7 linked regions of the Homo sapiens genome follow. The protein of the gene in region 6 purifies or fractionates together with the protein of the main gene of each other region. This does not show direct contact. Each region holds a gene or a part of one and is shown on either strand. Other genes may lie near its edges. The genes, in order: ANKRD28, DEGS1, CRLF3, THOC2, SGK1, MOB1A and MPG.

Region 1 (4,101 bases), on a different chromosome or scaffold from region 6:
CACAATGCAATGGACTAAAAGCATTTCCTTCCGTTTTCTGGAAAACTTCCTGTTCTAAAAGCAGTTCTACACATGTCTCGTGACCTAAATAGGTGTAAAGAACCAGGTATTAAAATTCAAAGGAGATACTGGCAAAAATCACAGGTACATGTAAGTGTTTAAAGGAAAAATGTAAAAGTCTCTCCCTCATCCCATCTCCCAGATCCCCTCTCTGGAATATAACCATTGGTAGCTGTTAAGCCACCAGTAGTTCCTGAAAATTTCTAGGCATATACAACTGCACGCACAAAATACATACAGTTGGCTCTCTGTATCCGTGGGTTCTGCATCCATCAATTCAACCAACCCCAAATTAAAAATATTTGGGGGAAAAAAAAAACAGAGCAGACTTTTTTTCTTGTCATATACCCTAAATACAGCATACCAATTATTTACATAACATTTACATTACATTGGTTATTATAAGTAATCCAGAGATGATTTAAAGTATAGCAGAGAATGTGCATAGGTTATATGCAAATACTATCCCATTTTCTATAAGGGACTTGAGCGCCTGTTGGTTTTGGTATTCACAAGGGGTCCTGGAAACCAATCCTCAACAGCAAACGAGAAATGACTGTGCTATTTTTTTATTTTTTTCTTAATGGCAATGGGATGTTTAATTCCGCAACTTGCCTTTTACTTAATATTAACTACACATATCCTTCCATAATAGCATATATGAAATATTATTATTATTATTTTAGATGGAGTCTCACTCTGTTGCCCAGCCTGGAGTGCAGTGGCGCGATCTTGGCTCACTGCAACCTCTGCCTCCTGGGTTCAAGTGATTCTCCTGTCTCAGCCTCCCAAGTAGCTGGACTACAGGCGCCCACCACCATGCCCAGCTAGCTTTTTTCGTATTTTTAGTAGACACGGGGTTTCACCATGTTGGTCAGGCTGATCTCAAACTCCTGATCTCAGGTGATCCACCTGCCTCAGTCTCCCAAAGTGCTGGGATTACAGGTGTGAGCCACCATGCCCGGCTAAAATCTTATTCTTTAATGTTCTGAAGAGCTTCACAGTATCAAAGTATATCATAAATTATTTAATCTAATTATGGATTTTAAAGTGATTGCTAGTTTAAAAAAATTCTTCATGATATTATCAACAACGCTGTAATGAAACATTCTGGTATTTTTTTATTTTATTAAAACAATTTTTTGAGACAGGGTCTTGCTCTGTTGCCCAAGTTGAAGTGCAGTGGCATGATCATGACTCTCTGCAGTCTCAACCTCCTGGGCTCAAGTGATCCTCCCACCTCAGCCTCCTGAGTTGCTAAGACAACAGGTGCAAGGCTACCACACCTGGCTAATTTTTTGATATTTTGTAGAGATGAAGTTTTGCCATGTTGCTCAGGCTGGTCTTGAATCCCAGAGCTCAAGTGATCTGCCTGCCTCAGCCTCCTAAAATGCTGGGATTACAGGCATAAGCCACCACGGCCAACATTTTGTTTTTATTTTAGGAAGTATTTTTGTAGGACAATTTCCTACCAAAGTGATATTGCTGTGGTAAAGGAGAAGTATCCAGCCTTGGTATTCTTGGGGGATTGGGTCCAGGACTCCCCACTGACAGCAAAACTCCATAGTCCCTTATACAGGTCCCTTGTACAAAATGGTTTATTTGTGTATAACCTATGCACATCTTCTCATATACTTTAAGTCATCTCTAGATTACTTACAACTTAATTCAATGTAAATGCTATATAAATAGTTGTTGTATTGTTTAGGGAATAATGACAAAAAAAAAGTCTGTACATGTTCAGCCTAACTATATTTCTGATGGACATTCAGTTGAATTCACCGATGGGGGACCCATGGATATGGAGGGCTGACTGTATTGACTGTTCATCAATATCTGGTCCATAGTTTTTAACAGTAACTTCAAAAACAGAAAAATCCAAATTTCAAATTTTCTTACCCTAATTCCAGAGCCAGGGTTTTAATTTAATACCCTAATTACTACAAATAAAATGTTGCTTATTTTATTTCATTAGTCATTTGGGATCTACTTTAGGAATAAGATTCTTACATGGCCTCTTTATACATTTTCATGGTTTAATATTTGCCTACCAAAGTGATGTTATATTTTCTTTTCTTTTTAAATTACTCAAACTTAATCAGCTTAAACTTTACCCTATAATTGTGGAAAAGTAATTTTTAGAAAAACCTGTAATTGTGTTCCATCTTTTGTCAGTTCTTTTCTCTAATCTAGTAGTTTTCAAGTGGATTTTGCCCATCAGCAGATATTGTATGTGGCAATGCCTACAGACATTTTTGTTTATCACAACTGAAGGTGGGGCAGTGCAACTGGCATCTAGTGGGTAGAAACCAATGATGCTGCTAAACATCTTGCAATGCACTGGAGAGTCCCTTGCAACAATCATCTGGCCCAAAACGTCATAGTGCTGAGGTTGAGAAACTCCTTTAATGCCATCGTTCTGAATGTTAACTCATTACTAAGATACAGCAATGGAAAGTTGTCCATTGTTGACTTAAGAGCCCCTCATTCTCCAGGTATATGGGTTCTTAAGGTGTGGCCTAGGGAACCCTGGGGTGACGCAAAAAAAATATGAATAAAAACACAGATGAGAACCCAACTATTCTCTTAAATTAGCTATGAAGAGATGTACTACTCTTCTCACTAAAAAGAAAATACTTTTGGAAAATAGTTTTCATAAAAAAAGATTATTTATGTTAACATGTAATAGACATTATTTTTAAATAAATCAGTAAGTATTTAAAAATTTCTCAATTACAATTTCTAATACAGTCAGTATCAATCCATAGTTCCTGAGACCAAAGGGTTTGAGAACCACTCACCATCTGAGTACAGACTGAGAAAAGGGAACAGTGGGGCCCCTTTGTGACCTCCAGAAATCATTACTGGGTGATATCAAGCAGACAATCTCATAACTTTCTATCATCATTTATGAAAGATAGATAGGATGGTAAACTGGGTCCTCCTGAGTTTCAGAGGCTAGTCTGAGGATGTTTAGAGCTTCATAAAAATGAACACATTTTTTAAAGGAATAATAAGTATTCTTAAGTTCTGTGATTGAATGACTATATAAACTGAAATTGTGAACTTTTAGTATCTACAGCCAGTGTTTTTCTAAAACTTGGCCATCATTTCATTTTAATTTTAAGAGGTTGTTTTCTGTTCTGTTGGCATGCTTCCACTTTTCTTTCCAGCTGTACAATAATTACTAGTTAAAGTAAAAACCATTTTACATATTCTACTTTCAGAATGCCAAATTATAAAACGGGCTTTTGGCTATAAATATGGTATTAATTTTAGGCTGTCTATATAGTCGCTTATTGCATATAGCCAACACACATTAAATTCCTTCCAGCTCAAATTCAGCATCACCACAATTTTGCTACAGGCTGAAAATCAGACACATTTGTTATGATCTTTAAATGGCAACCAGGCATGCAGTTCTTGCAAAATTCTGTCTCTTGCACAAAACGTGCTTAGAGTCTAAATTTAGCAGTGATAGAGTAGGAACTCACTTTAGGGAAAATGTTCTACATATAGATCTGATAACAAACACTGTAATAGAAAGCAACTCTCCAAAGGACAGTTACAGCAGTACATTTACAACTAAATGCTCTTCCTGAGGAAAAATATCTCACTGTGTGATTTTTCCAATGGTTAATCTTCAGGGATATATTTTTTTAAAAACCAAGCAGTAAGTCTTTGCTTCTGAACAGTTTTATCTCACTGACTTTTTTACAGAAACACAACTCACAATTGTAGATATTTTCCCACTATATTAGATATTTTGGGTTTTCCTTATACTTGTAAAATGTCAAGTCACATTACAGAAACAAATCAAACATCAATGGCAAAATACAGTATCTTCTTTGTTCTAGTATGAGTACTAGTCTCTGGCCACTTCACTACACTCATTTCTACTTGCCTTAGCGAGTAGAAATGGGAAAAAGAGAAGTTAAACCCCAAAGGTTTTATAGTTTTCAAAACTGTTTTGGTTAAGGATTTAAGGTAGTAAAAAACAAAGAGACTAAACTAGCTTGTTCAATGAGCAACAGATTTAAC
Region 2 (4,101 bases), on a different chromosome or scaffold from region 6:
AGATCGCTTGAGGCCAGTTCAGAACAGCCCCATCTGCACGAGAAATTAAAAAATTAGCTAGGCGTGCATGCCTGTCCCGCTACTCAGAAGGCTGAGGCGAGAGGAACACTTGAACTCAGGAGTTCGAGGCCAACCTGGGCAACATGGCAAAACCCCATCTCTACCAAAAAAAAAAAAATTTAATTAGCGGGACATGGTGGCATGTGCCTGTGGTCCCAGCTACACAGAAGGCTGAGGTGGGAGGATTGCTTGAGCTGGGGAGGTAGAGGCTGCAGTGAGCCGTGATTGCCCCACCGCGTTCCAGCCTGGGCAACAGAGTGAGACTGTCTCAAGAAAAAGAGATGAAGGAAGTGAGAAGGTGCTGATTGATACTTACCTCACACTGAGCCTTTTTTCCCCCCACAGACTTATCACTGAACCATTTCACTGGGAAAGTAAAAGGACCACATATTTCTTGGCCGGGCATGGTGGCTCACGCCTGTAATCCCAGCACTTTAGGAGGCTAAGGTGGGCGGATCATGAGGTCAGGAGATCGAGACCATCCTGGCTAACACGGTGAAACCCCATCTCTACTAAAAATACAAAAAATTAGCCGGGCGTGGCGGCAGCCACCTGTAGTCCCAACTACTCAGGAGGCCGAGGCAGGAGAATGGCGTGAACCCGGGAGGCAGAGCTTGCAGTGAGCTGAGATGGTGCCACTGCACTCCAGCCTGGGCGACAGAGTGAGCCTCCGTCTCAAAAAAAAAAAAAAAAAAAAAAGAAGGACTACATATTTCTCAATGAAAATACAGTGTACAATGTTTTCCATGCAGGTGTAAATACTAACTCATGTTCTGTTTCAGGGTGGGAGATGGAATAACCTGTAGAAAGAATCTTTAGATTTGTTTAAATTATACACAAATGATAAGAGATCTTTCTGAAAGTATTGACTTTTTGGCGGGGGAGGGAAGGGGCCTGATAGAACAACCAACAATTGTACACTTTAAGTTTACATTTAGAGTTCACATTAAAAGTTCATTTACAAGGCATCTGTTTGAAATTCGTGAGGATGAGCTGGGCTGGGTGGCTCATGGCTGTAATCCCAGCCCTTGGGTGGCTGAGGTGGACAGGTCACCTGAGGTCAGGAGTTCAAGACCAGTCTGGCCAACATGGTGAAACCCCGTCTCTACTAAAAATACAAAAATTAGCTGGGTGTGGTGGTGGGCGCCTGTAATCCCAGCTACTGGGAAGGCTGAGGCAGGAGAATTGCTTGAACCCAGGAGGCAGAGGGTGCAGTGAGCTGAGATCTCACCATTGCACTCCAGCCTGGGCAACAGAGCGAGACTCCGTCTCAAAAAAAAAAAAGAATAAATCACAAGAAATGGTTCCTTCACTGTTATACTTTAACATGATACAGCTTTTTAATGTTTTATTTTTTGAGAGAGAGTCTCACTGTGTTGCCCAGGCTGGAGTGCAGTGGTGTGATCATAAATTCTTGGGCTCAAGTGATGCTCCCGCTTCAGCATCCTAAGTAGCTGGGACTACAGGCTTGTGCCACCTCACCTGGCTAATTTTTTTTATTTTTGGTAGAAATAGAATCTGTTTGCCCAGGCTGGTCTTGAACACTGGGCCTCAGGCAGTCTTTGTGCCTCAGCCTCCCAAAGTGCTGGATTAATGGTGTGAGCCACAGCACCTGGCCAATAGCTTTATTGAGATTATAATTCAACTATCATGATTTATTCATTTAAAGTGTACAGTTCAGTATTTTTTAGTATATTCACAGAGTTGTGCAGCTGTCACCACCATATAACCTTAGAACATTTCATCATCACCAAAAGAAACCCTATACTCATTAGCAGTCCCTCATATCCCCTGCTTCTACCTAGGTAACCACTAATCTACTTTGTGGCCTATAGATTTGCTTATTCTGGACATTTCATATACATGAAATCATAAAATACCTGATCTTTTATGATTGGCTTTTACTTAGCATAATATAAATTTTTTTTTTTTTTTAATTTGTAGAGACAGGGTCCTGTTATGTTGCCCAGGCTGATCTTGAATTCCTGGGCTCAAGTGATCCTCCTGCCTTGGCCTCTCAGAGTGCTGGCATTATAGGTGTGAGCCACTGCACCCAGCCATTAGCATAATATTTTAGCTGGGCACAGTGGCATGCTCCTGTAGTCCCAGCTACTAGGGTGACTGAGGCAGGAGGATCACTTGAGTCCAGGAGTTTGAGGCTGTAGTGAGCTATGATGGCATCACTGTACTTCAGCCTGAGTGACAGAGGTAGACCCTGTCTCTAAATATTTTAAGGTTCATTAAAATAATATATTTTCAATAAAATAATATTTCAATAAAATAATATTTTAAGGTTCATTCATGTTATAGCATATGTCAGTGTATGATTCCTTTTTCTGGCTGAATAATATTCCTTTGTATGGATATACCAGGTGTTTAACATTTTGAGGAACTGCTGTACAGTTTTCCAAAGCAGCTGCACCATTTTATATTCCCACTAGCAAAGTATGAGGGTTCTAATTTCTCCACATCCTTGTTTTTACCTACCTTTTTTTATTATAGTCATCCTAGTGAGTGTGAGGTGGTATCTATGGTTTCAGTTTGCACTTTCCTAATGACTAACGGTGTTGAGCCTCTTTCATGTGTTTCTTGACTGTTTCCGTATCTTTTGGAGAAAAGTGGGTTCAGATCCTTTGCCCATTTTTTAATTGGATTATTAGTTGTAAGAGTTCTTCATATATTCTGGATATAGGTCCCTTATGAGATACATGATTTGCAAACATAACCCCGCTTCTGTGGATTGTCTTTTTACTTTCTTGACAGTATCATGTGCAACAGAAAGTTTTTGATGCTGTCCGATTTCTCTGTTTTCTTTTGTCACTTGTACTTGTTATAGTATCTAAGAAACCACAAAGGCCATGAAGATTTATTTCTATGTTTTCTTATCAGAGTTTTATAATTTTCTTATAAATTTGGGTCTGTGATCTGTTTTGAGTTCATTTTTGTGTATGGTGTAAGGTAGGGGTCTGAATCCATTCTTTTGCCTGTTGATAACAAGTCGGTCTAGCACCATTTGTTGAAAGGACTGTTCTTTCCCTGATTATATTGGTAGCCTGTAGTATTGGTTTTTATATACTATTACAATTTTGGGAAAATTCAGTACAGAATTACTTGGAGCATGTTGATTTGTCTGAGAAAACTGTGAATACCAGTTTCATGATTTTAGGGTAACTACAAAATGTATATTATATTCTATCCTTTGTCAGATGTGTTAATTTAATCGTTTTATATAAGGTAAGAATGCTGTACCTCTGTCTAAACACAGAAATAACATGTATTTTAATATAAAGAATGTGGAACTTCTAAACTTTGAGGCTAATTTTTCCTGCATAAATTCTCAAATTATTGTGACATGATATTTCATAACTTTACTAGTAGAATCCTTCCCTGTGTTATTAAATATCCACTAAAGTCTCTAGTAAAGGGAATATGATTTACAGAACAAATTTAATGTGTTAGTTTAATTGGTGTTAATTTAATTATAATTGGTGAACTATTACATACTTTTCTTAGTTCCTGTTTTTTTGTTTTTTCTTTACAGCAAAGTATCCAGAGATAAAGTCCTTGATGAAACCTGATCCCAATTTGATATGGATTATAATTATGATGGTTCTCACCCAGTTGGGTGCATTTTACATAGTAAAAGACTTGGACTGGAAATGGGTCATATTTGGGGCCTATGCGTTTGGCAGTTGCATTAACCACTCAATGACTCTGGCTATTCATGAGATTGCCCACAATGCTGCCTTTGGCAACTGCAAAGCAATGTGGAATCGCTGGTTTGGAATGTTTGCTAATCTTCCTATTGGGATTCCATATTCAATTTCCTTTAAGAGGTATCACATGGATCATCATCGGTACCTTGGAGCTGATGGCGTCGATGTAGATATTCCTACCGATTTTGAGGGCTGGTTCTTCTGTACCGCTTTCAGAAAGTTTATATGGGTTATTCTTCAGCCTCTCTTTTATGCCTTTCGACCTCTGTTCATCAACCCCAAACCAATTACGTATCTGGAAGTTATCAATACCGTGGCACAGGTC
Region 3 (4,101 bases), on a different chromosome or scaffold from region 6:
TGCATGTTGTTCTTATCAATTCAGGATCTATGCTTAGAATAGCTGGTTGTCAGTGTGCTGCCCTTAGCACAGAATACAGGTATTCTAATATATAGTTAGGCTTCAGGAGAGAAAAGGTTAGCAGCATACCATGAGGCACCAATGTGGAATGACCTATCTGGGGGACACTCCAAGGACTCCACTCCTGTCGGCCATCTCCTCGGGCGCAGACTCTGAACTGGTAATCAACGTTGGGGTCTATGTGCAATACTATGAATTCAGTTTCAGAACCTACATATACATCCTCAAAATGATTTGAAGTACATTTACGAAACTGGAGCCTGTAATCTTGGGCTGTAAAGTCATCATCCACCTAGGGAGAAAAGCTTTATGTTAGGTAAAAAACAGAAAATGACTTCTCTCAGCATCACTGCTTAAAAATTTTGAACGGAGCCATTTTGGACCAAGCAGACAGGCCCACATGCTGAATATGGGGTATTCTTGGGAAGGCCATAGAAAATATGCCATCACATCATTATCTCCCTTCTTTTTTTTTTGAGAAAGGGTCTCACTTTGTCACCCAGGCTGTAGTGCAGTGGCGTGATCTCGGCTTATTGCAGCCTCCACACCCCGGGTTCAAGCCATCCTCTTCCTTCCACCCCACAAGTAGCTGGGATTTCAGGTGCACACCACCATGTCCGGCTAATTTTTTGTATTTTTTGTAGAGACTGGGCTTCACCATATCTCAGATCTTTAACTCCTGAGCTCAAGCAATCTTCTCGTCTCAGCCTCTCAAAGTGCTAGGACTATAGGCGTGAGACACTGCGCCTGGGCTCCCTTCTTTTCTTTATTGAACCATGTGTTCTGTATTTCCCAGTCTGATATAAAAAAGTCTGCCTCCTTTGAAGAAATGGCATGTTTTTTAATCAATGCCAAAGATAAAACATTCAAGATTCAGTAAGTCTCCCACAACCATACATCATTCATAATAACCAAGAGATAATTAACATACAGTATACAGAACCCCCATTAATTTTTAGGGGTCCTGCATATATTCTGTATGTTAATTAGCCACCCAATAGAAAAATGGGTAAAAGACATAAATAAGCGTTCTACAGGAGAAGAAACATAAATAGCCAAAAATGTATATTATGAATATTCAACCTAATTTGTACCTAATTTGTAATATGGCAAATACGATCTAAAACCACAACAAGGCCAGACATGATGGCTCATGCCTATAATCCTAACACTTTGAGAGGCCGAAGCGGGTGGAGCACTTGAGCCCAGGAATTTGAGGCCAGCCTAGGCAACACAGCAAAACCCCATCTCTACAAAAAATTACAAAACTTAGCTGGCTGTGGAAGCACATGCCTGAAGTCCCAATTACTTGGGGGCTGAGGCGGGAGGATCACTTGAGCCCAGGAGATTGAGACTGGAGACATGATTGTGCCACTGTACTCCAGCCTGGGTGACAGAGTGAGACCCTGTCTCAAAAACAAACAAATAAATAAAACCACAACAAGGTACATTTAGGCAAAAATATAAAGTCTCACAATGCCAATTATTGGTCAAGATATGGAATAACAGAAACTCATATACTCCTTGGAAGGCTAAATTGATAGAATCATCTTGTGGAAAGTTTGTTATTACCTATCAGCGTATGGATCCAATACTCTAAGAAGACCTCATAATTTTACACCTAGGTAAATATTAATATTTTACAAACTTCACATATGTCCATAAAGAAACACAAGTAAAAATACTTATAGCAAAAAACTGGAAATAACTAGGTCCACTGATAGGAAAAATAATAAAAATGGAATGACAGTCCTGTTAGAAAATAACAACAGCATGTTTATAAAAAAAGAAAAAAAAATTTCCTTTTAATAAAATCTCAGCTGGGCACAGTGGCTCACACCTGTAATCCCAGCACTTTGGGAGGCCGAGGTGGGCAGATCACCTGAGGTCGGGAGTTTGAGACCAACCTGACCAACATGGAGAAACTCTGTCTCTACTAAAAATACAAAAATACTAAAAATACAAACTTAGCCAGGTGTGGTGGCGCATGCCTTAATCCCAGCTACTTGGGAGGCTGAGGCAGGAGGATTGCTTGAACCCGGGAGACGGAGGTTGTGGTGAGCCAAGATCGTGCCATTGTATTCCAGCCTGAACAACAACAACGAAACTCTGTCTCAAAAAAAAAAAAAAAGAAAATGTCAGCCAGGCGGAGTGGCTCACACCTGTAATCCCAGCACTTTGGGAGGCCAAGGTGGGCAGATCACCTGAGGTCGGAGGTTGCATCGCTGCACTCCAGCCTGGGCGACACAGCAAGGCTTCATTTAAAAAAAAAAGGCCAGGCACGGCGGCTCACACCTATAATCCCAGCACTTTGGGTGGCCGAGGCGAGTGGGTCACCTGAGGTCAGGAGTTCAAGAACAGCCTGGCCAACATGGTGAAACCTCGTCTCTACAAAAAATACAAAAATTAGGCAGGTGTGATGGCAGGTGCCTATAATCCCAGCTACTCAGGAGGCCGAAGCAGGAGAATGGCTTGAACCCGGGGGAAGCGGCAGGCGGGGGAGGGCATGGAGGTTGCAGTAAGCCGAGATCACGCCACTTCACTCCAGCCTCGGTGAAAGAGCAAAACTCTGTCTCAAAAAATAAATAAATAAAATAAAAATAAAACTGGAAGAGCTACCTCAGTGTTCCATGTGACTTCATTTTAACTGTAAAGTAAAAGAGATTTTTGTTTGAGAAGAAAAGAATGTATTTAAAAGTAGTCAACGAAAAAATCTGAAAGGCCTCCAAATCGCAAACCCATAATGTGGAAGTCATTTCTAGAATTCTGAATTACATACCTTACACCATCGTACAATGATGCCTCCAGGTTTCTCTATTAGTTCTTCTATCTGTACTGGTGGGCGAGATGCTACTGTTCCATGCTTAAAAATGTGGTCTTTCACTATGTTAAGAATTGAGTCATCCAACTGAGCAGATAAACAAGGCACATCAACCAGTAAAGGTACTTCTGGTAAGCTGAGGAAACAAAGCTCATGTGTTATGAGACCTCTAACTGAGAGTTAAAAAATACAAGAAATATTTTAGAGCAGTCACATGCTTGAAAGATCCTGAAGCCCCCAGTAATTAATTCTCATGGCAGTAGGGGATTTGCAAGATGTTACACAAAGATTCTCTTTTCAAATAAATATAAGTAAGACAGAAAATTGGTAGGATCATAACTGTCCAGTTTAAGCCAAAAGATCTGGTTTACTGGAATATGACTCCATTTCAACAATACATTGATAATTTCTAAAATTTAACAATTCTTTTATATATTGGATTGAAAAAATGTGTAGTAATACTATACCAAGGATTATAATCACAACTATTTCATTAGTAACAGTGGTAATGGGCAGTGAAACGCTTTTTTTTTTTTTTTTCAGACAGAGTCTCACTCTGTCCCCTAGGCTGGAGTGCTGTGGTGCGATCTCAGCTCACTGCAACCTCCACCTCCCCGATTCAAGCGACTCTCTTGCCTCAGCCTCTCGAGTAGCTGGGACTTACAGGCGCACGCCACCATGCCCGGATAATTTTTTATTTTATTTTATACTTATTTTGAGATGGAGTCTTGCTGTTGCCCAGGCTGGAGTGTAGTGGTACAAACTTGGCTCACTGCAACATCTGCCTCCTGGGTTCAAGCAATTCTCCTGTCTCAGCCTCCCCAAGTAGCTGGATTACAGGTCCATGCCCGTCTAATTTTTATATTTTTAGTAGAGACAGGGTTTCAACATGTTGGCCAGGCTGGTCTCAAACTCCTGGCCTCAAGCAATCCACCCGCCTTGGCCTCCCAACGTGCTGGGATTACAGGTGTAAACCACCACGCATGGTCTGAAAACCTTGAAATATATATTCTCTATCTCCCTTAATGAGAATCTTGAACAGAGGGAGGAAAAAAGCAGACATAGTTTAAATGCTTAAAAGTAAGTCAAAAAGGCACAAACTCTTTTACCTGTCCAACTGAATGTGCGAGGCCTTTTTGGTAAAGCTCCACAGTTTCTCATTCTCTTCTCCCACACCACCAAGCATGGCGATTTCACCTACAATCAAGAATAAGAGAACT
Region 4 (4,101 bases), on a different chromosome or scaffold from region 6:
GTGGTCTTAAATTTCTCATCTTTAGCTTTTTCTTCCTTCTTGAATTTTTCTTTCTCTTTGTCAGACTTCGGCGTTCTTTCCTTGGTCTCTCTTGCTTTTTCATCTTTATTTGGCCGCTCTTCCTTTGGTTTTTCTTTACCATCTTTACCAAGTACCCTGGCCTCTGGAGTAGTAGCTGGAGTCTTTTCTTTTTTCTCTTTTTCTTTCTCTTTCCCTTTTTCTTTGTCATTTTCTTTAACAGCTTTGTTGCTTAAGAATAAAAACATGGGATTTTAACACAAATAATCATAAAATATATCCTTTGATATATGATAAAATATATCATAAAGGGTTTCTTACTAACTTCAAAAATACTAGAACTAAGGGGGAGTCCTTTGAAAACTAAAGGACAACTTTAAGACAAGGAAAAAGGAAGAAGTAATGGTCGGGTGCAGTGGCTCACGCCTGTAATCCCAGCACTCTGGGAGGCTGAGGAGGGTGGATCACTTGAGGTCAGGAGTTCGAGACCAGCCTGGTCAACATGGTGAAACCCCGTCTCTACTAAAAATACAAAAAACTTAGCTGCGCATGGTGGCGGGCACCTGTAATCCCAGCTACTCTGGAGGCTGAGGCAAGAGAATCACTTGAACCTGGGAGGCAGAGGTTGCAGTGAGCCAAAATCACACCACTGCACTCCAGCCTGGGTGACAGAGCAAGACTCCTTCTCGAAAAAAGGAAGTATTTCTTTATCCAGTAAATCATAAACAAATTCATTAATTGCAGATTTAAAAGATGTATTAGCCGGGCACGGTGGCTCACACCTATAATCCAGCACTTTGGGAGGCCAAAGCAGGCAAATCACGTGAGGCCAGGAGTTTGAGACCAGCCTGGTCAACATGGCAAAACCCTGTCTCTACTAAAAACACACAAAAAATTAGCCGGGAGTGGTGGCACACGCTTGTAATCCCAGCTACTAGGGAGGCTGAAGCACAAGAATCGCTTCAACCCACAGCAATCCCTCTATCCTAAAATATTTGTTTAACTTCACACCTACATTCCCCTGAATATCCCAGAAGGAGAAACAAAGTCGTTATACAAGCATAACTATACAAAACATAATTAGGATGTAAAGCGTATCAGCAAAATAGGGTACATACAAAATTTCAAAGCCCAACATAAATGACTTTTCACATTACTCAACAACCACTCCCCTTCTACTCATGAGGACTCATAGAAGAATTTAGAATTATGAGGGCCAGGTGCAGTGGCTCATGCCTCTAATTCCAGCAGTGTGGAAAGCCAAGGCAGGTGGATCGCTTGAGGCCAGAAGTTCGAGACCAGCCTGGGCAACATTGCAAGACCAACCCCGTCTCAAAAAAATACATAAAAATCATTTTTAAAAAGAATTTAGAATTATGACACATGGCACAGTGTTCCTACCTGTTAGAGCCACTATTTCCATTGCTTGAATTCCCTTTAGGTGTGGTACTAGAAGCTTTATTAACAGCTTTCACACCACACTGAGATCTCTCCCTTGATTTATCTGAAATAAAAGTAAGGTTTTATTTAACAAGCCCCTAAATGTAAATAAGCTACAATTTCAGAGCAAAATGATTAGAGAATAATTAGAAAGAAACAGCAAGCTGATTACTTCTTAACGCTTATATACTCCTATCTAGGGAATAAAAAGTAATACTAAGCCAGCATTGTACTCGTTCTGTGATACAAAACATTTCACTTTGTTGAAATAAAATATATTACTTATAAGTTTCTACAAATAAGCATACCAGTCTCCTCAGTACTGCTTTCATCCGATTTAGATGCACTTCCTATTGATGATGAAGAAGGCCCACCACCAGGCCCATTTTGCACACTGGCAACTGCATTCCTCGGAGGGGGGTCTTTGTGATGAAACTCATTTTCAGGTATCATGTATGACTTTCTACTTTTCAACTGCCCAGAGTAGCTGAAAGTCGCACAAAGTGTTTAAATATACAAACACAAATCAAAAAACATAAACATGAGGTTTTTAAGAATAAAATTAGCAAGTTATTCATTCTACTATGTGGTTCTAGAGAATTAAAAAATACCAATTTTTAATAAGTTCTTGAAGGTTTTTATAGAACGCCCAGCTTTCTTAAAAATTACAATTTCACTATAAACTAATCCTTAAACTAAGATGGCTTTTTTTTTTTACTCTTGAAGATCTGTTAACTATGATGATAAAATTATATTTCCTCCCAATCAAGAAATATTATACATGACTTTAAAAAAACTATCATCCAGTATAGACCGGAAGTTGATAATCAGAAGTGGTAACTCTCACCAGCCTGTGGAAACATGATCGCATAATCTCCCATAATCTCCTGAAGGCAGAAGATAAACTTCAACACTGTAAAACATTTTAAAGTCTTCAGAATCCTTCTGTCATCTAGTCTTGTAAATCACATTAAAATATAATTTTGTTACCCCATAGCCAATGCATATAGATCTGGCCTCTTCTCTTTTTCTTCTTGGCAGATTTTGTGTACTCTTCTTTCCAAAGCTTGACCCAGATTCAAAACTTTTGGGTACCAAGGAAGTATTTTTGTTAGCACAATCAAGATATTCCTGATGTGAGTATATTCGCCTGTTTCAAGGCAATGTACCGATGCCTACAACAAACATTTTCAGATCCATTATTATAAAAGCACAAGTATACAGAGAAAAATTTGCCTTTGAAAAATCCAATTTTTTTTTTACCTTGGTTAGTTTGTAATGCCATTTATGTACAACATGTCGAAAATTTTCATAGTCTAATTGATCAGCCTTATTTCCACCATCAAATCCAGTTGCCCGTAATATGGTAAGGAATCCTGGATAGTTTCCACATTCCTAAGGAAACAATGTTTGTCACTTTTAAAGAAAAATTATGATCCACAAAATAGCAGAAATTGAAACTTAAGTAGACTAGATCAATGTTTCCGTGTAAAAACATCATGCGTATTTGGATAGGTAGTCACAAAAAGTTCAACTTATACAAAGATACTAATTTGGAATGTCAGTTTGAGATAGAATAAAAAAGTACATAGCACATTTTAATAACAAATTAATTGTGCTTATAAACACAGTTTTACAACTGAATCTTAAACTCAGCTTCTCTTTTAAAACTCAACTATCTAGATATTAATGGATGTGGTCATTATATACATGGGTAAAATATAAGGGTTTTTATTAGTCATACCTTTTCATATGTGGCTCTATCACTATGCCACCTGGTCACAGTCTCTAACATGCAGCAAAGAAACCTTCCGTATCGACTGGCTTCATTTTCAGTACAGCTTGCAACTGTGTAAATTATGTCAGAGAAAACCTACAGGAGAAAAATGTTTAAAAAATATAAACAAATCAAGGTCAAAATCAGTTAAAAATATTAGAAGATTCTCTTACAGCAAGTCATAATAAACAGGTAAGCCTAGTCAAAATGTATATTCCCTTTATATAATGACACTGCAGAGAACTTTGGAGATTTTGGCTTTTGTGGGGAAATAATGCATTCATAAAACAACCACCCAAAACAAGAACTTTTATAAAGAAAGCTGATTTACAGTGACAAGGAAAAAAAAATTTATCATTATTATTACATAATAAGTTGTTTTTTTTTTATTACATAATAGTTTCTTAACCACTTAGCCATACATATTACTGGGTTTACGGGGAGAGTAAGCAGAGGAAATGCTGATAGAAATTAAAAATATGCAGCTGACATACTGGAACATACATTATGTTTTTTGTTTTGTTTTGTTTTGTTTTGAGACTGAGTCTTACTCTGTCACCCAGGCTGGAGGGCCGTGGTGTGATCTAGGCTCACTGCAAGCTCCGCGTCTCAGGTTCACACCATTCTCCTGCCTCAGCCTCCTGAGTAGCTGGGACTACAGGCACCCACCACCACACCCGGCTAATTTTTTTGTATTTTTTTTTTTAGTAGAGACGGGGTTTCACCATGTTAGCCAGGATGGTCTCGATCTCCTGACCTTGTGATCCACCCGCCTCGGCCTCCCGAAGTACTGGGATTACAGGCATGAGCCACCGCACCCGGCCACATTATGTTTTTAAACCACAAAATGTAGTAATAAGAAAAAA
Region 5 (3,780 bases), on a different chromosome or scaffold from region 6:
CAGAGTAAGACCGTGTCTCAAAAAAAAAAAAAAAAAAAAAAAAAATTCTCACCCTCTTGTGTGGCATTCTCCTAAACTTCACAGACTATTTCTCAATTTCCATCTCAACTAACTGCTTTAGGTCGGCCTTCTTCATCAGGCTCTGGAAGGGCGAAGTTGTCTGCTTTGTCCACTACGATATCCTGAGCACTCGCAATAGAGCCCAGAGTAGGCTTTCAAATATTTCTGGAAAGAATTACCTGTAACTGAAGACAAGCCAAATGTCAGGACAAATAGTCCAACTTCACAGGACAGGCAATAAATACAGGAAGCATTACTTCATAGCAATCCTTGCAAGATGAGTAAATTGCAAAGGATTTCCTTGGATGGATTTATGAATGACAGACACCATAAAATGCTGCTAAAAAGGCCTGGAACGTAGGTTGGCTTTAAGACCATCCTATACTCCCCTGGAGTCAGAAACCACTGCTGTTGGGAGCAAACCACTAAGCAGGAAATTACAGCAGGATTTTCATGGTTTTCAATTTTAAACTAACCCATGATTACCCCCTTAACCAAAATATACAAAATAACACATGACACAATATATGTAAATATTTTTCAAGGTTTTATTGCAAACCAAAATCAGTTTATCACACACAAAAAAAGTTGTGTGATGGGATGAGGGAAGGATTGTACGTATTATAACCATGTTAATTACAGTACATTAAAATGGTGGTTTACATTACAAATAAGCCTGTAAGTTTAAATATACTAGTGTTATAACCCAATGTACAGACGTTCTTTATACAATACATACAATTATCAGGAATGCAAAAAAAAAAACATAAATAATGCCCATTTTACAGGTGACATTTTAAACAATGAAAAACACCAACGGCTCTGACTGACAACTGGGGCATTGGTCCATAAAAACCCTTTCTAAAAATAGAAATATTTGTAGCAGCAATGCTTTCTTTAAGCATCTGAATACGAGTCATTGCAAGACCATTTCAATAAATTTTAGTTATTAACCGTATCTTACAAAAAAGTCTACACATAAATTTATCTTCCAAATATGGAAGAAACAAACAATGTCCCACGTTGTAGTGTCCTGCAAGTGTCACATTGATGCTTATAACAAAATCCATCTGTGATCAGGCATACCACACTCACACGACGGTTCACACAGCATATCCACAAGGGAAAATAAAGAACTGAAACACTGCGATAGGAAAAGCTTTGGAGCTAACACAATCTCTTCAGAAAAGGCACATTTCATAATATTCGTCATCACAGCCCAGACAGATCTGCAGGAGACCTTTTTTAGAACAGCGTCCGCTTTCTAACGAAACTCCTGCCTCCGTCTAAGGCGGCACTCTAACGCTCGTTTCAGAGATAGCACCACGTTGGAAGGAAGAATAAAAATGAAAACCTCATGAGCTCACTGAGGAGAATGTGCTCTTCAAAAAGCTTCCAGCGAACAGTGTGCAATAAGATTGCTAAGCTTCCAGAGATGTGCAAATTCTCTTGTAAGATGTCCTGTCAGCTGGCGGCTCCACCAAAAGGCTAACTAAAACATTCGGAAACACACATAAAATCCTTTAAAACCAAGCCCTAACAGGGTTCAGAGGAAAGAGTCCGTGGGAGGCGCATAGGAAAAGCCTAGGAAAGCCTCGGCAGCTTCCTTGACGCTGGCTGTGACGAGGACGCTGTCAGGGGACTTGCCAATGGAGTTGGGGACAGGCTCTTCGGTAAACTCGGGGTCAAAGTGCCGTAGGTCGTTGGGCCCACTCTGTGACGGGAAGGGAAAAACACTCTTGTCAAGAACTCACACTAGACACAGGACAGGGAAATCTTGACCAGGCTTTAAATACCAAGTTTAAGTCTTATATCAACTTCCATAATCACCCACTTCAAGCACAAAATCTCAAAAGGCTACACACAGTTAAACATAAGAATAATGTTCACTTGTTGCCTTTTGGTGCTTCGAATTGATAAATGTGTCTAAAAATTATGGGAGCCTTGTTGGGACACAAAAATGTGCTTTTTATGTAGGTAAAATAACAGGTTTATGGAGAAAACATCTGCCAATGTATTCCTTCCAACCCTCCCCCAGACAATTCTGAATTAAAATAAATGCCCTTTGGGCTTCTCTATACTTAGAAGAGAGACAGATACTCACCACATTTGGGTTAAAAGGGGGAGTAATCTTCTTATTAATGAGATCATCCCAGTTAATTAAGGAGAAGAAGACATGACTCTTAATCTCCATCTGTTGATAAGAAACCCAAGATTAATTTAGACAGGTGCATTCAATAAGGGCAGGGAGGTCTAGTGCACGTCCCGGCCGGCCCAGGAGGACAGGAAAACATCACTCACGAAGTCATCCTTGGCCCCGAGCCGCTTTGTCCTGTCCTTCTGCAGGAGGCCCTCCAGGAGGTGTCTTGCGGAATTTGTAATATTTGGTTTCAGCTGGAGAGGCTTGTTCAGAATGTTGTCGTACATTTCAGCTGTGTTTCGGCTATAAAAAGGCGGCTGAAAGAAGGGGAAAATTACTTTAGACTTAATTGGAAGTTTCATATGGCACACATTACCAGTAGAGAAAAAGATATAAACGGCAATAAATATTAGGCTCGATTTGAGAAACTCTCCCCACCTCAATGCTTTCTTTTCCCTTGCTATTTAAGTGTCTACTTTGCAACCCGTGTGTGTGTTTGTGTGTGTGTGTGTGGAGGGTGAGGGGGTAGATGTTAATAAGTGGTAGTTTTTCACCACCACACAGGTTCAATGTGGTCCTATCTAGTAAAATGTGAAATGCACAAAAGAACCAGGTAAGTGATTATTCTTATGAACTATAAAATAACCAATATGCCTCTTAGCTGCTTTTGATAAGCGTACTGGTAAGGGCAAGACACCATGGCCAAGCATGGGCTGTGTGAAGGCAATATTGTAGGGAGCAGGCAGTGTTCCATGGTTCCCAATGTGCCACTCACCAGGCCATACAGCATCTCATACAAGACAGCTCCCAGGCACCACCAGTCCACAGTCCTGTCATAAGGCTGCTTATGAAGCACCTCAGGTGCGAGATACTGAAAAACAGACCAGGGAAACAGCGTTTAGAACCTGCGAAAGCAAGCAATCCCACGACCACACATTTAGTTTGAAAAAGCTGAGAGACCCAGAGCCAGCTTGGAAGATAGATATCTTTAGATTCCTTCCTGATAAAACTGCTGGACTTTTTGAGGGTGACTGGCTACCTATGTGTACTGACATTTAGGAAACTGCTGGGCACTTGATATCTCTTACTTAGGGATTTAGAAAGTTTTTATGATGCAGATCTTACTTACAAACAGCTACTTTTCAGTAAAGGAACAGAAGGACTTGGGATTTCTCATGCTACATCAAACAGCAAATGTATTTTATTTGCACTGAACTGTATTAAGAAGTCTCTGAGAGGAGTTTACTCTTTTTGGTAGTTAAGTGCATGATTGTACATCTCTCTCTTGGAAGGCGGGGGTAAACCAGGCACCAAACCAAGACAGCGCCTACCTCCGGCGTGCCACAGAAGGTGGATGTTGTGCTGTTGTGTTCAATGTTCTCCTTGCAGAGTCCGAAGTCAGTAAGGACAATGTGTCCCTGTGAATCTAGCAAAATATTCTCTGGTTTTAAGTCTCTGTAAAAAAGTGAATAGAAAAGTAGTTGCACAAGTTAATTTCACTTCATAAGATATCCTCTTAAAGATAATTGCTAAAGGTATTAGAGGCATTTTAGGTTCACTGTAGTTGTGTAGTGAAGAAA
Region 6 (4,101 bases):
ATCCGTTTCTGTATTCAGTCTGTTGTGATATTACACATCATGGAGCCTCTGGAAAACACCATTGTGCCCTCTTGAGAGAGTAAGAGTGAAAAGAACAATTAAAATGGTTTGACCTTACAGATCCTCCCTCAGATAGGGGATTCCTGGACCACGTTTTGAGAATAGCTCTTCTAGACCAAACCAACTTCCACCTGGGCATATTTTTTGTTTTGAGTGAATATTGAATACCTAAGTGTTACTTTCTTAGAAACATGACTAAGAGGAAGATTTATAAGTGAGGGAGTTTTGTATAAAATTCCTTTTACAAGATAGCATTTTAAAAAAATCTATTTGTTTTTTAAGAAACTTGGAAAATACCTAGTTGTTTTTAGGTACTTCTTTAGACAGGAGACTAAAACTTTTTATTTATTTATTTTTTCGAGACAGGGTTGTCCAGGCTGGACTGCAGTGGTACCCTCACAGCTCTCTGCAACCTTGAACTCCTAGTCTCAAGGGATCCTTCCACTTCAGCGTCCTGAGTAGCTGGGACTACAGGCGTGTGCCACCATGGCTAACTAATTTTTTAAAATTTTCAATAGAGACCGGGGTCTAGCTGTGTTGCCCAGACTGGTCTCAAATCCTGGCCTCTTAAAGTGCTGTGATTATAGGCGTGAGCCACTGCACCTAGCCTAAAACATTTTTTGAAACTTTCCAAGGCTTATGTGGTTCTCTTTGCATAGAGTATACTCACTCAGTAAAGTTTATTTACTCACCCCCTGCCTCTTCCATTTTATTCTGGATCTAGCTGAAGCTCCCTCAGGAAGTACCCCCTGACTACTTCCAACTCTTCATGACTTTGCCTTTTCTCTGTAGCATTTATCGTTGGCCTTTGGATCCTGTCTTCTTATATCTTGTACTATTATTGCTATTTTTATTTTGAGACAGTGTCTCTGTCACCCAGGCTGGAGTGCAGTAGCACCATCACAGCTCACGGCAACCTCAGCCTCCTGGGCTCAAGCAGTCCTCTCGCCTCAGCCTCCTACATAGCTGGGACTGTAGGTGTGCACCACCACGCCTGGCTAATTTTTTAAAAATTTTTGTAGAGATGGAATCTCACTCTGTTGCCTAGGCTGGTCTTGAATTCCTGGGCTCAACCAGTCCTTCTACCTCAGCTTCCCAAAGTGCTGGGATTACAGGCATGAGCCACCATGCCTGGCCATATCTTATATTATTCATCTCTTTTAATTTTGTCCTTTCTGTTAGCTAGAGACTCCAGGGCAGGGGACTTTATCTGAAGTATTTTGTCCTCAGTATGCTGTAGACCTCAAAAACAAATGTTTATGATTAATTAGATCTTTTAAATGCCTCTGGATACAGCTGGTGCACCTTCTCCCTCACAGTATATTCCACAACATGTTTTGTCTCTTTCCTAACACAAATGGTATTATCTGGTCCAAAGTGGTAAACTATGGATTTTTCATTCCCTTGGATGTAATCATATTGTATATCCAAAGGATATAATAGTCATCGTTAAGTTAGAATTATCTCCAGTATCTTATTTTCCTGCTGTTACATGCGAGTGGATCATGAGGTCAGGAGTTCAAGACCAGCCTGGCCAACATGGTGAAACCCTGTCTCTACTAAAAATACCAAAACAAAATTAGCTGGGCGTGGTGGCATGCACCTGTAATCCGAACTACTTGGGAGGCTGAGGCAGGAGAATTGCTTGAACCCGGGAAGCGGAGGTTGCAGTGAGCCAAGATTGCACCAGCCTGGGCAACAGAACAAGACTGTTTCAGAGAAAAAAAAAAGTGTAGTATACTACAAGTTACAGTATCATTGGATTATTGAATGTCTCAAGGGTTCAGCTAAGAACCTAAATGTATTGTCTGTTTTTCCTTCAACTGGAGGTCTCATATTTTGTGTTTACACAGACATTTTGACACAATTCTATTATCTCTGCAGCTGTGGATTTCTTTAACCAGATCAACATGTTATATGGAACTATTACAGAATTCTGCACTGAAGCAAGCTGTCCAGTCATGTCTGCAGGTCCGAGGTACATATACTGCCTATTATATAGGTGTTTGGATTAGTTTTACTTTATCACCAATTGATAGAAATTAAACAGTTAAGATTTGTTATCCGTTTGTGTGAAGGTGATTCAGTTTTATTGGTTCTTGACTACTCACCTGTAAGCTTTTAGTTATTGTGTAATTTTAAAATTTTATTTATTTTGAGACAGAGTCTCGCTCTGTTGCCAGGCTGGATTGCAGTGTGTGATCCTGGCTCACTAACAACCTCTGCCTTCCGGGTTCAAGCGGTTCTCATGCCTCAGCCTCCCGAGTGGCTGGGATTACAGGCCTGTGCCACCACTCCCAGCTAATTTGTGCATTTTTAGTAGAAATGGGGTTTTGCCATGTTCCCCAGGGCTGGTCTCAAACTCCTGGCCTCAAGTGATCTGCCCACCTCGGCCTCGCAAAGTGCTGGGATTAAAGGTGTGAGCCACTGCACCTGGCCAGCTATTAGTTATTATTAAATACTTTAGTATGTGGGTACTCCCTGTTTTCATTTTTATGTTGCATCATAGTAAGTCTGAATGTTTTATTATAGGAATAAACAGAAATTTGAGTTACATTTGTCTTGAATTGCAAACATTTTATTTTTTCAATTTTATTAATAACATTTATGTTTCCTGTTTCTAGTTTTTAAATGAATTTCTTGGAAGAGTTTTTAGTTGATCTTTTAATATTTGATTATTTTTTCTTGTGCTTATTTAGTATTTAAAGCAGCACAATTTAGAAGTAATTATCTGGCTTGAAGATGCTAGATTTAAAAACATTTTGACTTTAATAAATTTCAAGAAATACTGAAAAAGATGGAACTCTATCACTCATAATATTAAGTCCATCATATGATGGGATTAATGTTTGCTGTGTTTCCTTCCAGTTTCTTTTTTTTTTCTTATAATAAATGACTGATTTTATGTGATGATAGATGTTATCAAGATGTTTGCTTCTTAGAAAAGATTGTCCTTTCTGACTTTGCTACAAGTGTAAAGGAAAAAAGATCCCTAATGAGTTTGTAGTTCTATTTTTATTATAATATTTTAGGAAGAATGTTTTTATTTTATATTGTGTTAAGTTTTATTATTCAAGCTTTAAAAGAAATGAAAATAAACAGGAAAATTAAACTTACCTATGGCTCAAATGCTTTACACAGTGATGTTTTGTATAACTCTTGTTAATCCTTCTAGCTCGGCAAAGGTAAGGGGGGAAAGTATGCATGCCTAATGTATATCTCTAACACCTGGCCCCCAAAACAGAGTTTTATAATCTTGGGTCCATTGATGATAATAAATTGATGACCAAGAATCTCAGAAGAATGTAGTGGATCCATCGGCTCCATGCCCAGCCCTCAGCAACCTTCTGCTTTACAGGAATGCAGTTCCTTTGTGTTTCCCAGGGCTGTGTTGTTAATAAAACATCTATCCTGGCATTGCCTCCTGCCACATTATCTCCCTTTTTTCTTCCAGTTATAACTGTCACTTTCTGGATAATTACATAGGGAACTCACAGTAATCTTCAGTAGAACTTAAGGTGATTTATTAAAGTTAGATGTAACTTCTATTGACAAAATGTGAATGAACCTGTTTTAATCACAACTTGCACATTTGTTAATATTTTTGAAAAATTTATCAGTAAAACATTTTTCTCTTCAGATATGAATATCACTGGGCAGATGGTACTAATATTAAAAAGCCAATCAAATGTTCTGCACCAAAATACATTGACTATTTGATGACTTGGGTTCAAGATCAGCTTGATGATGAAACTCTTTTTCCTTCTAAGATTGGTGAGTTAACATTGTCGAAGTATTCTTTCTTTTTTTAAAATTTTATTTTATTAATATAAATAGAGTTGGGGGGGTTTGCTGTGTTGTCCAGGTTGGTCTCAAACTCCTGGCCTCAAGTGATCCTCCTGCCTTGGCCTCCCACAGTGCTGGGATTACAGGTTTGAGCCACCGTATCCAGCCTGTTTCTCTTTTTGAATGATAAATCTGCTCTTTTTAACATTGTTATACTTGTAGAGACTGCCAAATTCTCCTCCAAAAAGTTTGTAC
Region 7 (4,586 bases), on a different chromosome or scaffold from region 6:
CACCAGTGGCAGATACTGGGGCCTCTCACCCCTCCCCACCCCCATGGCCAACACACACCCCTCTTCCTTGTTGGCAGAGCCTCCTGGGGGAGACCACACCCTCCTCAGCCCAGAGAGTGGCCTGGGATTTCATGGCAACTCACTGCAGTGACCCTTTTAGGGATGAGTGCATGACCCAAGCCTGGCTGAGGGGTCTGCAAGGGCATCCACTAGGAGGTTATGGAGAGGGCAGAGGGCTGTCCCTGATCCAAGGGACACAGGGTGAGACACCCTCTTCTCTGCTGGACATCATCTTGTCCACCAATGGGCTCAAGTGGGCATGACTGTGGCCTGACAAGGATGCTGAATAGAGACAAACGTATTGTGGTCCCTGATGCCATGCTGCGCCCTTGCCCTGTTCCTACGACGCACCTGCCACACGTGCTGTTTTGTTGTATCACAAATGCCCATTGTATTTTTTTTTTATTTTTGAGACGGAGTCTCGCCCTGTCGCCCAGGCCGGAGTGCAATGGCGTGATCTCAGCTCTCTGCAACCTCTGCCTCCCGGGTTCAAGTGATTCTCCTGCCTCAGCCTCCCAAGTAGCTGAGATTAGAGGCGCCCGTCATCACACCCAGCTAATTTTTGTATTTTTAGTAGAGATGGGGTTTCACCATGTTGGTCAGGCTGGTCTCAAACTCCTGACCTCGTGATCCACCCACCTCCGCCTCCCAAAGTGCTGGGATTACCGGCATGAGCCACCACACCTGGCCACAAATGCCCATTACTTAAGGTGCTTTTAGAAGGATCCGCATGGGGACAGAATGTTCTCTGTTCTCCATGAGGTCGAGCCCACATTCTAGGGTCTGCTCCTTTAGCACCCAACTCCTGGCACTGGTATTTCTCTTCTGGTTCTTCTTGGTGATTATAACCTAAAAGTAGGCTCATTAAAGGACAAAGGGAAGGCCTTGGAGCCTCTGGAGAACCAGAAAGGCAGGCCTGGGGCTTTGGCATCGAGGACCACCGCCACCACCTCGCTCCCAACAGATCCAGCCAAGATGCCACGGCTGTGTGAGCATCTGCTCGTGGGGACAGGCTGCACCGTAGGCCCCACCAGGATGGGACCTGGGCAGTCCCTGCTTCTTACTCCAAGTCTGATTGGCAGAGCCCAGATCCTTGACCTACATTAAGCTGCAGGGGCCCTGGGAAGCCAGCACTGCACTGTGAGCCACTACAGCGGGAAGGGGCAGCCCGACACTGGCCACAGCCACAGTTCCCACGTGTGGAAAAACTGAGGTGGATTGCCGGTGAGGAAGGCTAACGGTGCAAGTGCTCCTGCCCTAGATGCCCAGAGCCGGGGGCAGACAGTGGCACCCCTGCTCCACCCTGGGCAAGCAGCACTGACAATCTCTACATTCTTCCCAGATGACCTCAGGCAACTGAGATGAAGCTAAGCAGGGACCAGTGTGAGCAAAGCCGCTAAATGCATGAGGACAAGGAGGACTAACTGAGGGCCAATCCAGCAGGCAGCGGACAGGGGTTCAGGGACAACTGCAGTGACAGGCACTTCAGGAGGGCCCTCGCTGCTATGTTCACATTACCTGTCCCAGAAATGCCCGGGCCAGGGGGACTGCCGGCTGGTCGAAGAACTCCAACCCCAGTCGGGTAAGGTGGCCCTTTGGGCTTGAGAAATAGATGCTGCGGTATGGGCCCGGAGTGGTGGGCGGTCCCAAGCAGCGCTCCCTGGGGCAAGGTGCCTGGGCTGCATCGGACGAGCTGTGTGGCTGCTCTGCAGGTGCCTGGGCTGCGTCGGACGAGCTGTGTGGCTGCCCTGCTCTAGCTGGTCGCTGCTTCTTTTGCCCCATCCGTCGGCAAAACTGTAATGGGAAAAAAAATAAATAAGCATCCGAATAGGAGACAGCTGTGTGGTAAGGTCAGGCTCAGGAAGTGCAAGGACTGGATCTGACCACCTGCTTTGGTTTCTTCATCTGCAAAGCGGGGGTGACCATCCTGTGGGTTGTTATGAGGCACAAACACCCTGACACACTCGAGGCCTCAGGAAATGATCACGTCTGACGATGGACGGCTGCTGCTGGGGGCAGGGTGGCTGCTCTGCCCCACATATGTGCGAGCTGCACGGCATGGGGGCCCAGGCTGCATGACCTGGGGAGCAGATGGGGGCCTGAGCCTGGGACAGCAGGGCTGGTGCCCTCCGATTCCCACTCATCATGCAGGTCCCAAGCAAACGTCTGAGCTGGTTTCTGGAGCCCTGCCCTTTCATCCAACCCTTGCCAGAATTCAAAACACAGGATCTTAGCAGGGCCAAGGTCGGACACACAGGGAGGGGTGAGCACCGGGGTGACCACCGCGTGCTCAGGGTCCCTAACTGTCCTCTGCTTCATGGCCCAGGCTGGATAACGAGCAAGTGGGGCAAAGGCAAGGTCTCCTGAGGGACTAGGAGGGTCTGCTGAGACCGAGCAGGCCGCCAGCCTCCCACCTCTGGCCTCCCCATGGGTAGGGGGAACCTAACCACACATCCTCGGCTGTCCTGGGGCAAAGGAGAAGGGAAGATGAAGGTGGCGGGTGAGCGCCGGCCTGGCAGCACCCGGAGGGCTGGTCTTTAGCAGCACCTAAGTCCTCCTGGCATGGGAGAGATGCATTATTTTTAACGGGAGTGCTGACGTTAATGTAGAACGGAGACTGCCAGTCGGCCTGGAACGGACGCTGACGTGACCGTCTCCGCAGCTCGGCCCGCGCTGCCAGCGCGCCGTGGGTTCAGCCCCCGGGCGCTGCGGCCACTGCTCTCGGCCCGAGCTTGGCCCTTGGCCTATGCTCTGGCTCTGCCCCGAACCCTCGGGGCGGTGGGCGCTACGCCCGTCCCCGGCACTCCCGCTCCCGCGGCCGCGCTCGCTGCTGCGCCTGGGGGTGGGCGCGTCTGTTCCGCGGGGCGGCCGAGGCGCGCGCTCACCTGGGCCCCGCTGCGCGCGGGCATCCGGCGGCTCGGGCCGGGGCTTCGTGGGACTCGGACCCCGGCGCGGAGCCCAGCAGCCGCCGACCACGGAAGCACCCCTAGGACCGGGGCGGAGCGGCGCCTGCGCAGAAGGGGACGGAAGCCGGGAGAAGGGGGGCAGTGAGCGCCGGGAACTGGCTGCGCCCCCGGGGCGGGGCGGGCCACGTGGAGGTGGATCCTCTTCCCAGCGCCCACCGCCAGGTCCGGACCGATTCCCGGGCCCGATGCGGTGCCTGCGAGGCGAGAGCGGGGAAGGGGCACCTGGGGGTGGGGCGAGCCCCGCACTGTGCCCCGGCGCCCCTCCCAATGAGCTGTCCGCCCCCGCCTGCGCCCTGGTCGCCTGGCGGCCCCAGAGCCCACTCCACCAGCCGGTGGTCAGACCACCGAGAGGACGGGCCCGTCGTGAACCTGAGTGGATCCTCGAGGGGCCCGGGCGGAGTGGTCGTGCTTTGGGGGAGGGGGCGGGCCGCAGACGTGTTTTCCGGTGGGGTGCCAGCGGAGTGAGCGCCTGGGAGGCCGCCCCAGCCCTGGTCCGGAGTGGGCCGGGGAGTCCTTATCCAGGAAGTGGACGCCAGGCTTGTGCGGAGGCCCCCGCCCCTGGCCGGGGTTGTCACAGGCTGGTCGGGGGAAGGAAGGAGGGAGCGGCGCGGATTCTGCCTCTGCAGCAGAGCCCCCATCCCTCTTTCCGCCCAGGGATGCTGAAGGGAGCTCGCCCACGTTCTGGGTTGGGCCTGCTGGAGCGCAGGCAGCCTCCTCTAGAGGCCGAGGCCAGACCAGGGCTGAACACGGCCCGGCAGTGCGCAGCCGTCCTACGCTTCTGAGGCCTCCCCGACGGCCCAGCGCCTGTAAGCTCTCACAACCTCTCAAGTCAGATCCATGCCCCTAGGGAGGGGCAGGGACGGTGCTTGGCCCAGTGGACGGAAGGGCCTAGGGGACGGGCCCTGAGGGAGCTGGGCACACTGCTGGCTCCCACGGCCCATGGCAGCCCCAGCACCCAGCAGAGCCATCCCCCGCTTCTGGCCACTTGAAGGTTTATCTGGGTCTGCAGGGCCCCTCCACTGTGGCAGGCACAATCCCACCCCACAACCCACCTCTGCCGCACAAAAACCCTCGAGGGGCTTTTCCTGAGCTTTGACTTCTGTGACCCTGGTCCTGGAAAGGAGCACCTGAAAAGGCCTTGAAGAGCAACTGGGCACCTGGCCGCGTCAGGTGGGAGACGCTGGGCAGGACAGACGCACAGGCCATGTGTCTGGAGCCCTCAGATGAGTGTGACACCTGGTCCTACAGAAAGGCTAACAGGGCAGGACCTGGTCTCCAACTGCCTCTCCTCCTCTGACCAGCCGTCCCACCCCCATGGGCCCCAGCCAGGACTTCCTGGGGAGGGAGGGGCCATCAGCCGGCTGGAAGCCACCAGCTGTTTGTAGCACTGTGTGCCGCTTCCCGGGGTGGGGGCATAATGTGTCATCAATCCGTGTTTATAAAGCAGCCCTGGATGTGATTCCACACCCTCCCTGCTTATCTGCAGCCATGCCTCCCAAACAATGAGTCTCTCCTTCCTGTGGGAACAGCCCCCCATCCCCCCGAGTGCTCCCCCTCAGT

Evidence for each region.
Region 1: the proteins of MOB1A (region 6) and ANKRD28 purify together in Homo sapiens (affinity purification with mass spectrometry; one large-scale study listed by BioGRID and IntAct). This does not show direct contact.
Region 2: the proteins of MOB1A (region 6) and DEGS1 purify together in Homo sapiens (co-immunoprecipitation; one large-scale study listed by IntAct). This does not show direct contact.
Region 3: the proteins of MOB1A (region 6) and CRLF3 purify together in Homo sapiens (affinity purification with mass spectrometry; one large-scale study listed by BioGRID and IntAct). This does not show direct contact.
Region 4: the proteins of MOB1A (region 6) and THOC2 purify together in Homo sapiens (affinity purification with mass spectrometry; one large-scale study listed by BioGRID and IntAct). This does not show direct contact.
Region 5: the proteins of MOB1A (region 6) and SGK1 purify together in Homo sapiens (co-immunoprecipitation; one large-scale study listed by IntAct). This does not show direct contact.
Region 7: the proteins of MOB1A (region 6) and MPG purify together in Homo sapiens (co-immunoprecipitation; one large-scale study listed by IntAct). This does not show direct contact.

What each region holds. Positions count from the first base shown.
Region 1 is NC_000003.12:15,679,480-15,683,580, forward strand, and holds part of ANKRD28 (serine/threonine-protein phosphatase 6 regulatory ankyrin repeat subunit A), read right to left. Parts: intron 85-4,101; coding exon 1-84. UniProt on the Homo sapiens protein: Regulatory subunit of protein phosphatase 6 (PP6) that may be involved in the recognition of phosphoprotein substrates. Involved in the PP6-mediated dephosphorylation of NFKBIE opposing its degradation in response to TNF-alpha.
Region 2 is NC_000001.11:224,185,976-224,190,076, forward strand, and holds part of DEGS1 (sphingolipid delta(4)-desaturase DES1), read left to right. Parts: intron 1-3,601; coding exon 3,602-4,101. UniProt on the Homo sapiens protein: Has sphingolipid-delta-4-desaturase activity. Converts D-erythro-sphinganine to D-erythro-sphingosine (E-sphing-4-enine). Catalyzes the equilibrium isomerization of retinols.
Region 3 is NC_000017.11:30,793,321-30,797,421, forward strand, and holds part of CRLF3 (cytokine receptor-like factor 3), read right to left. Parts: intron 4,079-4,101; coding exon 3,991-4,078; intron 3,018-3,990; coding exon 2,840-3,017; intron 353-2,839; coding exon 130-352; intron 1-129. UniProt on the Homo sapiens protein: May play a role in the negative regulation of cell cycle progression.
Region 4 is NC_000023.11:123,621,339-123,625,439, forward strand, and holds part of THOC2 (THO complex subunit 2), read right to left. Parts: intron 3,332-4,101; coding exon 3,203-3,331; intron 2,854-3,202; coding exon 2,722-2,853; intron 2,634-2,721; coding exon 2,449-2,633; intron 2,372-2,448; coding exon of another isoform or gene 2,306-2,371; intron 1,946-2,305; coding exon 1,767-1,945; intron 1,523-1,766; coding exon 1,420-1,522; intron 250-1,419; coding exon 1-249. UniProt on the Homo sapiens protein: Component of the THO subcomplex of the TREX complex which is thought to couple mRNA transcription, processing and nuclear export, and which specifically associates with spliced mRNA and not with unspliced pre-mRNA.
Region 5 is NC_000006.12:134,168,662-134,172,441, forward strand, and holds the end of SGK1 (serine/threonine-protein kinase Sgk1), read right to left. Parts: intron 3,656-3,780; coding exon 3,532-3,655; intron 3,072-3,531; coding exon 2,976-3,071; intron 2,518-2,975; coding exon 2,362-2,517; intron 2,255-2,361; coding exon 2,165-2,254; intron 1,775-2,164; coding exon 1,607-1,774; 3' UTR 595-1,606; downstream 1-594. UniProt on the Homo sapiens protein: Serine/threonine-protein kinase which is involved in the regulation of a wide variety of ion channels, membrane transporters, cellular enzymes, transcription factors, neuronal excitability, cell growth, proliferation, survival, migration and apoptosis.
Region 6 is NC_000002.12:74,164,951-74,169,051, reverse strand, and holds part of MOB1A (MOB kinase activator 1A), read left to right. Parts: intron 1-1,944; coding exon 1,945-2,038; intron 2,039-3,700; coding exon 3,701-3,834; intron 3,835-4,101. UniProt on the Homo sapiens protein: Activator of LATS1/2 in the Hippo signaling pathway which plays a pivotal role in organ size control and tumor suppression by restricting proliferation and promoting apoptosis.
Region 7 is NC_000016.10:76,693-81,278, reverse strand, and holds the start of MPG (DNA-3-methyladenine glycosylase), read right to left. Parts: upstream 3,055-4,586; 5' UTR 2,970-3,054; coding exon 2,946-2,969; intron 2,141-2,945; exon of another isoform or gene 1,987-2,140; coding exon of another isoform or gene 1,948-1,986; intron 1,855-1,947; coding exon 1,579-1,854; intron 1-1,578. UniProt on the Homo sapiens protein: Hydrolysis of the deoxyribose N-glycosidic bond to excise 3-methyladenine, and 7-methylguanine from the damaged DNA polymer formed by alkylation lesions.